Linked DNA regions of Homo sapiens. Each later gene encodes a partner of the first gene's protein in a complex. Each region holds a gene or a part of one and is shown on either strand. Other genes may lie near its edges.

Region 1 (7,024 bases):
TATTTGTTGCTTTTCTAAAAATATCTGGTAACACCTTCACAAATCACAAAGGAAAACTTAAGAGCCAATCTCTAAAAATTTGGTTTAAATACATAGAAATCAAAGGTATAGCACGGCAAAATATCCAGCAATTCCTCAAGTGAATTTACTGGTAGCTAGGATTTATCTCAAATGACAATATTCAATTTTAGTAAGAGATTTTATTTTTAAATGTTTCTAGTAACCCAAAAGACTTCCACCCGTGACATGTACTACGTCAGACTAAGGCAATATGTTTTCTTTGGAAACGAAACAGTAACGTCTATTTGTAGGTAAAGGGAAGTTAGGAATAAAATAATCTTATCAGCTCAAAACTACCCTCCTTGGGCATGGAGCTTGGAAGGGTATGAAAGAATGTAGCCAGGGATAAAGTGAGCTCAGGTTTCTCTTATAACGAGATACCCATGTGTTCTAAGGTTCTAGGTATTGCCCAAGCACAGGGTTTCTTTTTTATTTTTTCCTGAGATGGTGTCTCATTATGTCACCTACTTTGGAATGCAGTGGTATTATGACACTGACTCATTGCAACCTCCGCCTCCCGGGCTCAAGCCATCCTCTGACCTCAGCCTCCCAAGTAGCAAGTAAGCTGAGACTACAAGCGCACACCACCACACCTGGCTAACTTTTTATTGGTTTTAATTTTTTGGTAAGATAGAGGGTTTCGCCATGTTGCCCAGGCTGGTCTCAAACTCCTAGGCTCAACGGATTCACTTGCCTCCACCTCCCCAAGTGCTGAGATTACAGGTGTGAGCCACCACACAGTGGAACAGGGTTTCTTAATGGACATTTTCAGTCGGATAATTCTTTGTTGGGGAGTAGCGGCAGCAGTGCTTGTCCTATGCACTGTAGGATGTTTAACAGCATAACTGGCCTCTACTCACTAGGTCCCTATAGCACCCCTCCAGTTATGACAACCAAAAAGTATTTCCAGACATTGCCAAATGTCCCCAGGAAGGGGGAAACAGGAGATGGAATTTCTGTAGTATAATCAGTATAGATAAGTACTAAAGAAGTTTTTTTTAGGAAAAAAACTTAGTGTTAATATTAACATTTATTAATTATACTGGCCCCTACAAAATAAGGATAAACAAAAATTAAAAATGAATAAAGCACTCATTTAAACCATGAACTTTTACTATGGGATACTGGATAAAGTTTGAATTAACATTTGTATTAATCCAGAAAGGAGAATTTTTAGAATTCAAAATTAAGACGAGTTTACCTGGTTGACTGCATTTGCCTTGTAGTTTCTGGATCTTCAAACATCTTCACAATTGGTTCTGTTTCTGCCTGAAGCTGTTTCAGTTGTGCAACCACTGTGGTTCTTTTCTCTCTCAAAGCTAATTAAAAATGCAGAAGAGCACTACAATGTTAAGGAATGTTAAATTGTGCTACTCATCATGAGAATGTCTGGAAATTTTTCAGTGTATTTAAACTATACATATATTTATTTACCCCCAATATATTCATATGCCATGGGCTACTCAGTCAGAAATGTCCCCGATCCCTAATTTCTTTTTTCTACTAATACAAAGGCACAAAAAGGAAAAGGGAATCCTCTTCCTACTCTTGAGGGAAACTAGAGAATATACAGCCTTGGGGTGACAGAGGGATGTGAAAGAAAAAAAGGGTAGGACCCAATTATCTATCATTTAATTCTCCATTGCAGAAACTTCTTTCCAAGTGTTTTTATATTTGTTCTCATTTAATTTTCTTAGGTGAATATTATCCCAGAGTTTTTGAAGAAAAACTCAGAGGGATTTACATATTACTATTACAGGTTATCAACTAGGTTGAATGGAATTTAAATCCATTAAATAATCTCTTTTAACCACAAATCCAGCTCTATAATCTCTCAAACCAAATTCTATCGTTCCTTTTACTATACTATGAAAAGGTGGAGAAAACTTGCACATAACCAACTCTGGTAACACCTTAATGTTTCATTAAGAAACTAAGAAATAGGCCAGGGGCAAGGGCGCACGCCTGTAACCCCAGCAACTTGGGAGGCCAAGGCGGGCTGATCACGAGGTCAGGAGTTCAAGACCAGCCTGGCCAATATGGTGAAACCCCGTCTCTACTAAAAATACAAAAATTAGCTGGGCATGGTGGTGGGCACCTGTAGTCCCAGCTACTCGGGAGGCTGAGGCAGGAGAATGGCGTGAACCCGGGAGGCGGAGCTTACAGTGAGCCGAGATCGCACCACTGCACTCCAGCCCGGGCAACACAGCGAGACTCCATCTCAAAAAAAAAAAGAAAGAAACTAAGAAATAGTTTCCTTTTTGTTTATCCATGACAAACTAAAAAAGAGATACTGTTATTGCAGGGAACTACAAGTCAAACATGTGGATTATGTTTAATGTAATAATGTCTGTATTATATATTAGAAAGTATATTCTAGAGCAGTCTTTCTGAAACACAGAAGATCTATGATCAAATTTTGAGAAATGCCAATTTAATCACAGTATACTGTATTTCTCTACTGCCAAAATTCTTGGAACCTTTAAAAATGTAATGTGCATTGAAGAAATGACACAGAATTATTTCCCAAACTTAAGAGGACCACTTAACAGTTTTGATTAAGTAGGTCTGGTGTGTGGCCAAAAACCTGCATTTCTAACAAGCTCTCCCAGGTGAACTGATGATGCTGGTCCTGGGGACCATATTTGGAGAACAATGTCTACACTAGATGCCTCAAAATTAAAAAAAAAAACACAAAACTCTAAGGCACACAATGCACTAACTGAAAAAGTTAGCAACCCAAGAACTGCAACATTCTCAGATAATTCTAAGGAATGTGAATCATAAGCACAACTTTGATGATACATACTATGAAATGAAGGCATCTGATGACCATATTTTAAAGTAGTTCCACATCTTTCACAGGGAGAAAACAATATATTTCGGAAGATATGAAACCTTTATATAACCTCTCACCCAAAGAACATTAACATTCAAATCATATTTAAGCCTTTTGGCTAAAGCTGTCTTATAAATCATAAAACTTTAATACACACATCCTCAAGTCACAAGACAAGTTTCAGTTCTAATGACAAAACTTACCATGAGGAATATCATCAGAATAAAGGTTTTTGTATACATCCATAGCAAAGTCTACCATGTTGGTATCACTAAGAAGGTCCAATTTACCTTGTAATAATTCCTTTTCATTATATATCTGCAAAAGAAGATAACTTTCTAATGAATATATTTAAGTTCCCCAAATAAACTGATTAATACTAAAACTAATTTACCTGGAAATATATTTCAAGAAATACTTTATAAAATACGATAAACCATTAACATTCCCCTCTTGTAATAATGGCAAGCAATATGGCAAGCAACCAACCTATAGACGTAAAAGTATTTTACTTACCTAAAAATTTTAAAATGAAGAGAATTACTGTAGACATTCCCACCTACTTCTGATTTACATGACCTTATTTTTTATGTGTCCCTACAAACCATCTCTTACCCTTTCTAGGCAAGGCTGTGTATAAATAAAACCCACGCCATCTTTCCTGTAAAGCACATATAGCTGTCACTTCTCCACATCCAGGTAATCAGTAATAAACTCCTATATGCTTCTCCATCCACATTGCTGAAACAACCTGCACCAAGTTTTTAAGTCAACCATGTCAGATCAGGCTTTTGCTTTGCAAAGGATCCAAAAAAGCATAATTTAACCTATAGTACAGGGAGCAAATAGATACATATACACAAACTCACAACAACATGAAGTGTACTGAGTAATATGTAAAGATTCTACAAAATATTCACGGACAGAAATGCTTCAGCAAAAGAAAAGATTTCTGTACTGAACTTAATTTTGCAAGGAAAGAAAAATCCAAGAAAATGCCACAATATTTCACTGCCCACAAAAAATAAAGATGAAGGTGGTCAAAGGGTATTTAGCCATGAGAGCAAAATCGAACCTTCCAAATTACATGCAGAACTCCTATAAATGAGTAAGACAAGACAGACCTTGCAATTGAAATGGCTAAAAGATAGGCACTTCGCAAAAGAAGACAACCAAATGGCCAACAGACACATGAAAAGGTTCTCAACGTCATTAATCATAAGGAAATGCATACTAAAAATTACAATAAAAACCTAAAAAATCCTGACAATACCAGTGTTGGTGTGGATGTAGACTAACTGGAACCTATTCTCTTCTGGCAGGAATACAACTACTTTGTAAGATTTTTATCTCCCAAAGCCAAACATACTTTTTGATCCAGCAATTGTTTCGAGGCATCCAAAACAAATGGGTGCATATAGTCAAAGTGCACTTCCAAAAATGTACACAGGAGCACTATTTGTAATAGCCAAGTCTATCAATGTTAAAATGAGAAAACAAACCACAGCATACTCATAATAGATTAACATTCGGCACTGAAAAATCAATGAACTACTACTGCTATCCTAAAAACATGATGACTCACAAACAATGCTGAGTGAAAGATGTCATACAAAGCAGTACATGGTGGTAAATGCTTAACTCCACCTATATAAAAATCAAAAACAGGCAAAATGAATCATCAGACTACAGCTTACCTTTAGGGGGTGTGAGTAGTGACTAACAGGGGTCAAGATGAAGGTTTAAGGATGTCGCCAGGCGCAGTGGCTCACGCCTGTAATCCCAGCACTTTGGGAGGCCGAGGCAGGCGGATCACGAGGTCAGGAGATCGAGACCATCCTGGCTAACACGGTGAAACCCTGTCTCTACTAAAAATACAAAAAATTAGCCGGGCGTGGTGGTGGGCGCCTGTAGTCCCAGCTACTCGGGAGGCTGAGGCAGGAGAATGACGTGAACCCAGGAGGTGGAACTTGCAGTGAGCCGAGATTGCGCCACTGCACTCCAGCCTGGGCCACAGAGCAAGACTCTGTCTCAAAAAAAAAGAAAAAAAAAAAAAAAAAAAAAAGGATGTCTGTAATGTTTTATTTATTAATCTGAGTGGTGGTCACATAAATGTATTCGCTATTCATTTTGAAAAAAATATGTATCATTGACCAGTACATTTATATTTGTGTACTTGTATGAATGAACGTCATATCTGATAAAAAATTTACCTAAAAAACCTTAACTTCTCATCACTTTGCCCTATAGAAACACTAATCTTAAATAAAAACATTCTTTTCCAAGCACGCTACCTCTCCCCACTCCACTAGTAACTTTTAATTTGCCACGTCTCTCTCCACAATAGATTCAATAGCCTTGCTCCTCTACCATCAGGTGTTACTGTCCTGTTCTCAAATCTACATATGCCTCTCAATTCTGCCTCATAAGCAGAAAGCAAATACTTCAGACTTTGTATCAAGAAGCAACAATTGAAAATACTATATAAGTACTCACATGAAAAACGAGAATCAAATTTCCACAATTTTTTAAAAATTTTGAAACAGAAATAATAACAGTAAAAGTTTTTGTAATACAGGTCTATTAATAAGAATAGAATGCTTTTTCAAGAGAAATTATTTCACTTAATTGGGGTATAAAGTTAATATTCTATAATTGCTAATGTTTGCAAATGTTCCTCTGTTACAAACTATTCTTAGCCCCAAAACCACACAAAAACAGGCTGCTATCTGATTCCCAGGCTATAGTCTGCTGATCCGTCGTCTATCAACCTCTTGAAAACATATTACTTTTTAACAGATTAAGAATCTTTTTTTGCTGTCTCTTCCTCTGCTGTCATTCAACACAAATATAATGCCATACTGATGACTCTTTAAAAGCTTGAGCCCTAAAATTCCTTTATTCCTCAAATTATGACAATTTTCATCATGTATCTCATCTCCAAGAATTCCAACTTAAAACTGATAACCCCTCATCTCCAAGAATTCCAACTTAAAACTGATAACCCCTTCCACCATTACCATTAAAATCTTCATCATCTCAGACTTTCTGCCCTTTCTAATTTTTGTAATACCCTTTTTGATGTCACTTTCTGCCTTAGTTTGGATATCATTTTTAGCTATTTCAAAGATTTTCTCTTCAGTTCTATCATTGATTCTTTCAAACTAATTTCTCCAACTATATACAATTCAGTGTCAATCACTAACTCTGGAAAAAAAGTCACCTATTCTCTAGGTTCTGGCTAAGGATGACTACAAAATGTTTCAAAATTAGGGAATAATGTTATTCGATCACATCTGTGCTTCTCTAAATGGCATTTACATACAAGCCTACCCCTAAATATGTCTATACTACTCCCATAGCCTTCTACCGCTCCTCGCCCTGAGAATGACCCCATTATTAGCTCTAAGGTATGATTTCCAATCTCAGTTGGGCCCTCCACACTTAACCAATCCTTGTACTTTCCTTTGATCAGTTTCTTAGTAACCATTTCCAGTCCTTACCTTACTCCTCAAAACCCTCACTGCCCCCCCCTCCCATCCCATACCAATACAGAATGGGCTAGTCTTCCAAAATAAAAAACATTTAGAGCCAAGGGTGGTGGCTCATGTCTGTAATCCCAGCACTTTGCGAGGCCAAGGTGGCAGATCACTTGAGTTCAGGAGTTTGAGACCAGCCTGGGTAACATGGTGAAACCCCATCTCTACAAAAAATACAAAAAAAATCAGCCGGACATGGTGGCGCACACCTGTAGTCCCAGCTACTTCTGGGGCTGAGGTGGGAGAATTGCTTGAGCCCAGAAAGTCAGGGCTGTAATGAGCTAAGATTGTGCCACTGCACTCCAGCTTAGGTGACAAAGCGAGACCCTGTCTCAAAACACAAAACATTAAGGAGTACTCACTCTGTCCCAGAAGAGCGTAGTGTTTTATATGCATTATCTCATGTAATTTTTCTAACCCGATGAGATTGGTGGTAGTATTAACATTTTATTCATGAGAAAAGGTTAAGAGGGTAAAAGAATCTGCTCTGACTGCACAGAGGTATTAAATGACCGAGTCATGAAAGGTCCAATTCAGAGCCCAGGGTCCTAAATATTTCACTATCTGGCCTTCTGCTTCACATGAA
Region 2 (7,777 bases), on another chromosome or scaffold:
AGTAGCGGCATGAACGAAGGCCTCAGAGTACAAAACACCCTCCATATGAAGTAAGCAAAGACATAAATGATAGAACTCAAAAAGCAACACGCAAAATGGAACCCTCAACTGTTGAGCGACTACTACTGTTTTTGTTAATTATACTGTGAATATGTACTTAAAACTGAGAAGAATGCAAACAAAACTGATTTTTCATATTTCATTAATTCCACGACACTCTCTTTTTACTGTAACATCTTTAAAATGAGGCTGCACCTTGTGTTTGACAGGGTGTTGTATTGATTGGTAGTTTTTCTTTTTCTGTGTTACATAAGTGTTTAAAAAAATTTAATGGTGTCAGATTTGATAAAATGTCCTAATGTTTTTTCAAATATAGTAACCTTGTTTTGGTTCTGAGATATACCTTCACCAATTCATACAAACTCAACTTCCCTAAGACTTAGTAGTCTTTTCTTTCTTTCTTTTTTTTTTTTGAGACAGAGTCTCACTTTGTCACCCATGCTGGGGTGCAGTGGCGTGCAACTTCCGCCTTCCGAGTTCAAGCGATTCTCCTGCCTCAGCCTCCTGAGTAGCTGGGATTACAGGCAAGCGCCGCCTGGCTATTTTCTGTGTTTTTAGTGGAGACAGGGTTTCACCATGTTGTCCAGGCTAGTCTTGAACTCCTGACCTCAAATGATCCTCCCGCCTCGACCTCCCAAAGTGCTGGGATTACAGGCGTGAGCCACCACGTCCAGCCACCTTAGTCTTTTCCATCTGCAAAATAAACAAGATCCTTGTTCTAAGCACTTTGTATAATGCCACACAAGTATTCAGACTTGCAAAAGTGCATTTATGTATATAGAGTGCTGAGAAAAAAAGATCTTTAAGTATATCCTGAAATTCAATTTTCCTTTCTCATTGTTTCAATTTTCTGCCATCAACGCAAATCCTGTGTGCAGTGCAAGCGGACATAAAGCCAGGCAGAAGAACTGCCAGAGGGCCAAGGAGGTCCCCACAGACCTCAGGCCCAAAGTTGCCATGTTAAATGTTCATGAATACTGCCAGGCACTGTTCTTACTGTTTACCACTCATTCATTCATACAGTCCTGCCAACAATCCTGTGAGGTAGGAGCCAATGTTATCCGCACTCTCCAGATAAGAAAACCAAAGCACAGAGAAATGAAGAAATTGCCCAAAGTTGAAATGCTAGTGGATGAAAAACGTGAACCAAAGCAGTCTGACCCCAGAGTCTGCACTCTGCATAATGCTATAGCCCTCTTGGGAATTAAAAAACCGGCGCTGTATAGCAGATGGCTGCCCGACACTTCTATAAAAAAACCTATGCATTTATCTTCCGTTGTAACCTTCTGAAAATGCTTAGAAGGCGAGTTCCTAGAGGAAAATTCACTACACAAGTATTTCTTGGAGGCCGGGCGCGGTGGCTCACGCCTGTAATCCCAGCACTTTGAGAGGCCGAGGTGGGCGGATCACGAGGTCAGCAGTTCGAGACCAGCCTGGTCAACATGGTGAAACCCAGTCTCTACTAAAAATACAAAAATTAGCTGGGCGTGGTGGCGGGCACCTGTAATACCAGCTACTCAGGAGGCGGAGGTTGCAGTGAGCCAAGATCCTGCCATTACACTCCAGCCTGGGCAACAGAGCAAGACTCCGTCTCAAAAAAACAAAAATCAAATGTTTCTTGGAGGCTGGAGAGCAATCAAAAGAACAGGTATGCTGAACTTAGTAAACTCTCCTCAAAGCCCCATGCTGGGGAGATTGAGGCTTCCTTCAGAGATGACATTTGGGTGACAGCAACACAGGATGAACCTAGAAGTTTCATCTTTCTAATAGAAACTATAGGAAGAGGACAGAAGAAAAAGGGTGGTGGTCTCAGAACAATTTGTATTAAATAAATATTGCTGAGCTCCTACGTGTTAGGCCCTATACCAGATAATTTAACACCATTGACCACCCCCCCACCCCTACTTTAGAGGCAAAAATTTGAAGCTCAGCCTACTCAAGCAGCTGACCTCATCATTTCAAAACAGATTTGATTTCCAGGGTTGCCTGCTGTCAGTCCAGCCTTCTTTCCATTATATTACAGCTGGGCAGCAGCCCGCAAAGATCAGGGGTTTGAGACCGTACATCATAATACCAAGACAACGAGTCTCAAAACACACTTTAAAAAATCGGGTTCTGTCAGAAGCTCAAGAAGGGAAGAGGCCCGAGGCTCGACCTGCATCACCTCCCTGGAAAGCCAGGGATGAGATACCCTGGCTTTAATAAATGTTTTTTTTTTTAAGAGCAGAGCGGAACCAGGAGGAGAAACTGAGCCGCTCAGCAAAAACGAAGTAACAGCTGTACTAGTCACAGGGGCAGGATAGGGAGGTTCCAAGAGGGCACTCAGAAGGGGCTCTGTGGTTGGCAGGCCACTACAGATCATAAGCCGTCCATCGCTGAACAGGGGGTGGGGTAGATTTAAGATCAGAGATCAAATCTACTTCTCTATCCTAGCCTCCAGTTTCACAAAAAAGGAAAGATAACCTATGCACTGTGAATTCCTAAGAACAGGGGCCAAACACCGCTCAGCCTGGTACCCCTAAGACCTCACTCAAAAAGTCAGGGAGTTTTCGGCCACTTCAGAAAGACTTTGTTGTTACCCCTCCGTCTTAACCCAGGTGAGTTAAGTGACAATCAAATTCACCCAGCTCATGGGCACTGAGCAGGGCCGAGGGCCAAGGACCTCACCCACAAGGTCGTGTCCCGCGTTCAGTAGCGTGCGGGACGCGGGGCCCCCGAAAGTGGATTCCTGCCCCGCCCAGCGGAGGGACGGCAACAGCAGGAAGGGACTAAGAGAGGTCTCTTCCGGGAGGCCCCCCGAAGGCTGGACCTAGTCCGAACCGGCTCCGGAGGGCCGCAGGAACCTATGAAACACGCCGCTCACCTGCAATGGCCTCGGCCGGCCGGGATGGCAACAGATGGTGCGTGCCGGGGACCGCGTTAGCAGCAGCACTCTTGAGAAACCAGGAAAAGAGGAAACATGCGCGCGCAGCGGGCGCCGCCGTAAACACGACCGGCGCTGTCGTAAACTGCTCTCCCGCTTCCTCTGGGTTGGGCGGAAGAACTCACGAGCCGTAAAGCGAAGGTCCACCCGGAAATCCGTTACTGCGTTTCGCCAGGCGTCCTCATTAGCCTCCGAGGCGCCGAGACGCGAGAGGTGTGATTGGCACTACGTCAGGCGGTATCCGGGGACGCCCAAAGAGGGCGTTCATCACTGAAACTTGGCGGCCGCGCAATCGAAGCTCGAGGCGGGGAGCGACTGGCGCCCTTCTGTGTCCCACAATGCTTCGCGGCGCGCCTCAGCCCCCATGTATCCCACCGTCACCCGCGACTCCCCGCCTGTTCTACCTGCCTGCTTAATGTGAAACTCAGCGCAGGGGAGGTCCGTCGGTGTCTTAGGCGGTCCTTATTGTTACTCCTCCGCCTTTATAGTTGTGGAAACTGAGGCTCAGAAGTGCCAAGTGACCTGCCTAGATCAGACTGTTAGTTTAGGGTTCTAACCGCCAGAGTTCAAACCATACTTCCGCAGTTCTCAAACTTAATTGTAGGACAGGGATTTCTGGAACAGTGTTTTTATTTATTTTTATTTATTTTTTGAGACAGGGTTTCGCTCTGTCGCCCAGGCTGAAATGTAGTGGCAGGATCACGGCTTATTGCACCCTCGACTTCTCAGGTACAAGCGATCCTCCCAGTTCAGCCTCCCGAGTCGTTGGTGTACACAGGCACGCACAACCACGCCTGCCTAATTTTTGTATTTTTGGTAGAGATGGGGTTTTGCTATGTTGCTCAGGCTGGTCTCAAACTCCTGAGCTCAACAGTCCACCCACTGGGGCTAGGGTTACAGGCATGAGTCACCGTACCCGGCCAGCTAATGATTTTTAAAAATTTTGTAGAGACAGCGTCTCACTATGTTGCCCGGGCTGGTCTTTAACTCCTGGTCTAAAGTGGTCCTCTCGCCTCAGCGTGCGGAGCAGCTGAGGCTACAGGTGCATGCCACCATGCCTGGCTAATTTTTTTTTTTAGACGGAGTCTTGCTCTGTCTTCCAGGCTGGAGTGGAGTGCAGTGGCGCTATCTCAGTTCACTGCAACCTCCGCATCCCAGGTTCAGGTGATTCTCCTGCTTCAGTCTCCCGAGTAGCTGGGATTGCAGGCGTGTACCAACATGCCCGGCTAATTTTCCTTTTAGTAGAGACGGGGTTTCACCTTGCTGACCAGGCTGGTCTCGAACTCCTGACCTCAGGTGATCTACCCACCTCGGCCTCCCAAAGTGCTAGGATTACAGGCGTGAGCCACTGCGTCCGGCTGCCTGGCTAATTAAAAAAAAAAAAAAAAACTTCTGTGGAGACGAAGTCTCATCATGTTGCCAAGGCTAGTCTCAAACTCCTGGGCTCAAGCAGTCCTCCTGTCTCGGTCTCCCAAAGTGCTGGGATTACGGGCGTGAGCCACCACACCTGACCAGGATAGTATTTTTAAAAATTCAGATTCTGGGTCTCATTTTGATAGATTATACGGATATGTTTATGCTGGAGCCCAAGAGCTCCGCATTAGCTGTGATTCTGAAGTGACGACTCAGGAACTGCTTTACTACAGTAGATAACAGTGCTGTCCTCTCAGCAACTCCCAGGCTATGGAGTTCCTCCTGGTGTCTTTCTTTCGGAATTTTAAAACAATGAAAGATAATCTGAGGGCATGACTTTATTCAAACCTCAGATCCTTTCTACCTGACATAGGTTTCCTTAGCCGCCTAGTATGTCTCCTTTATTAGAAAATATACCTGAAGTCTAGGCTCTGCCACATTCTTTTTTTTTTCTTTTCTTTTCTTTTTTTTTTTTTGAGACGGAGTGTCGCTCTGTTGCCAGGCGGGAGTGCAGTGGCGCGATCTCAGCTCACTGCAACGTCCACCTCCTGGGTTCAAGTGATTCTCCTGTCTCAGCCTCCTGAGTAGCTGGGAATACAGGCATGCGCCACCATGCCCAGCTAATTTTTATATTTTTAGTAGAGACAGGGTTTCACCATGTTGGCTGGGATGGTCTCAATCCCTTGACCTTGTGATCCCCCCGCCTCGGCCTCCCAAAGTGTTGGGATTACAGGCATAAGCCACTGTGCCCAGCCAGCTCTGCCACTTGATAGCTATGTGTGGCCTTCACATTCCTTGCCTTGTTTCCTTATTTGTAAATTGAAGATGATAATTAGAGGGCGCTGTGGGGGTGAAAATAAATGTGTGTGAAAGGACTTAGTAATTCCACTTATCATTTGGGTGAACTTGGACAGGTTATTCAACCTCTTTTTTTTTTTTTTTTTTTTTTTGAGACAGAGTCTCGCTCTGTTGCCCAGGCTGGAGTGCAGTGGCGAGATCTCGGCTCGCTGCAACCTCTGCCTCCCAGGTTCAAGCAATTATCTGCCCCAGCCTCCCGAGTAGCTGGGATTACAGGTGCCCACCACCATATCCGGCTAATTTTTTGTACTGTTAGTAGAGACGGGGTTTCACCATGTTGGTCAGGCTGGTCTCGAACTCCTGACCTTGTGATCCACCCGCCTCAGCCTCTCAAAGTGCTGGGATTACAGGCGTGAGCCACCGCACCTGGCCTATTCAACCTCTCTAAACCTGCTTATTCATCTGAAAAATGAGAATGCTAATAGCAGCACCTATTTCCATAAGCTCTCTCCCAACTGCTCATTTTTTTTTTTTCCTAATTTTTGTTAATGGTGTCTGGTGAATTGTGCCCAGTGGAAAGCCTTGTAGTCATCACTGGTAGTTCGTTTTTCCTTCCCTCCCACATTTAGTTCTTCACTATGTTCTCTTTATTCTACTTGCACAATGCATCTTGAATGCTATCACTTTTTTTTTTTTTTTTTTTTTGAGACAGAGTCTTGCCCTGTCACCCAGGCTGGTGTGCAGTGGCGCAATCTCAGCTCACTGCAACCTCCGCCTCCCGGGTTCAAGCAATTCTCCTGCCTCAGCCTCCCAAGTAGCTGGGATTACAGGCGTGTGCCACCACGCCTGCCTAATTTTTTGTATCTTTAGTAGAGATGGGGTTTCTCCATGTTGGTCAGGCTGGTCTCGAACTCTTGACCTTGTGATCCACCCGCCTCGGCCTCTCAAAGTGCTGGGATTACAGGCGTGAGCCACTGTGCCCAGCCGAATGCTATCACTTTTTATCCCCATTTCACATCACGCTTGGATACACTCTTGCTGCTCTAGGGTTTCTTCTCTATATGGTGGTCAAAGGAATCTGTCCACAACCTTCTACTAGCTTCCCATTATATGCTTAGAGGGAAATATGAATATCTTTTTGTGGCCTGTGTGGTCACTGTCTACCTTTGTTATTTTTAAAATATTTACTTCTTTGAGACAGGGTCTTGCTCTGTTGTCCAGGCTGGAGTGCAGTGGTGTGATCATGGCTCACTGCAGTCTTGACCTTTTGGGCTCAAGCAATCCTCCCACCTCAGCCTCCGAGTAGGTGGGACTAGAGGCTCATGCTGCCACTCCTGGCTAATTTTTAATTTTTTGTAGAAATGGGGTCTCACTATGTTGCCCCGGCTGGTCTGGAACTCCTGGGCTTAAGCCATCCTCCAGCCTTGGCCTCCCAATATGCTGGGATTACAGGTGTAAGCCACCTCACCTGGCCACTGGTCTACCTCTAGCCACCATATTCTTCTTGTGCCTTAAATACACTGAACTTCTTTCTTTCTTTTTCTTTTTTTTTTTTTTGAAACGGAGTCTAGCTCTGTTGTCCAGCCTGGAGTGCAGTGGTGTGATCTTGGCTCACTGCAACCTCTGCCTCTGGGGTTCAAGTGATTCTCCTGCCTCAGCCTCCCAAGTAGCTGGAACTACAGGTGTGTGCCTCCACACCAGGCTAGTTTTTGTATTTTTAGTAGAGACGGGGATTCATCATGTTGGCCAGGCTGGTCTCAAACTCCTGACCTCCAGTGATCCATCCACCTTGGCCTCCCAAAGTGCTGGGATTACAGGCGTGAGCCACTGTGCCCAGCCCACCAGCCTTCTTTCCATCTCAGCAGGGCCTCTGGACTTGACGTTCTTTCTGCATGGCACACTCTTCCCCCAGGTTTCCTGGTAGTTGAATTGGTCTCATCATCTATGCCTCTGCTCGAGAGTTAACTCCTTATGCAGGTCTTTTCTGACCATCATTTCTAAAACAGGTGATTGTATTAGTCCATTTTCATGCTGCTGATAAAGACATACTGGAGACTGGGAAATTTACAGAAGAAAGAGGTTTAATGGACTTACAGTTCCACATGGCTGGGGAGGCCTCACAATCATGGCAGAAGGCAAGGAGGAGCAAGTCACATTTTACATGGATGGTAGCAGGCAAAGAGAGAGCGCTTGTGTAGGGGAACTCCCCCTTTTAAAATCGTCAGATCTTGTGAGACTTATTCACTATCATGAGAACAGCATGGAAAAGACCTGCCCCCATGATTCGATTACCTCCCCCTGGGTCCCTCTCACAGCACATGGGAATTCAAGATGAGATTTTGGTGAGGACACAGCCAAAGCGTATCACTGGCATAGAGTAGGTGCTTAAGTAGGTACTCATTGACTGAGTTAATGAAAAAAAGAATCTGGCCAGTGGTGGTGTCTCATGCCTGTAATCCCAGCACTTTGAGAGGCCAAGGCGGGCAGATCACCTGAGGTCAGGAGTTTGAGACCAGCCTGGCCAAAATGGTGAAATCCTCTACTAAAAAAACAAAAATTAGCCAGGTGTGGTGGAAGGCACCC

Evidence for each region.
Region 2: EIF3E (region 1) and EIF3D share a complex: the UniProt entries of both Homo sapiens proteins name them as parts of the eukaryotic translation initiation factor 3 (eIF-3) complex.

What each region holds. Positions count from the first base shown.
Region 1 is NC_000008.11:108,238,697-108,245,720, forward strand, and holds part of EIF3E (eukaryotic translation initiation factor 3 subunit E), read right to left. Parts: intron 3,218-7,024; coding exon 3,103-3,217; intron 1,380-3,102; coding exon 1,262-1,379; intron 1-1,261. UniProt on the Homo sapiens protein: Component of the eukaryotic translation initiation factor 3 (eIF-3) complex, which is required for several steps in the initiation of protein synthesis.
Region 2 is NC_000022.11:36,526,153-36,533,929, forward strand, and holds the start of EIF3D (eukaryotic translation initiation factor 3 subunit D), read right to left. Parts: upstream 3,015-7,777; 5' UTR 2,924-3,014; intron 1-2,923. UniProt on the Homo sapiens protein: mRNA cap-binding component of the eukaryotic translation initiation factor 3 (eIF-3) complex, a complex required for several steps in the initiation of protein synthesis of a specialized repertoire of mRNAs.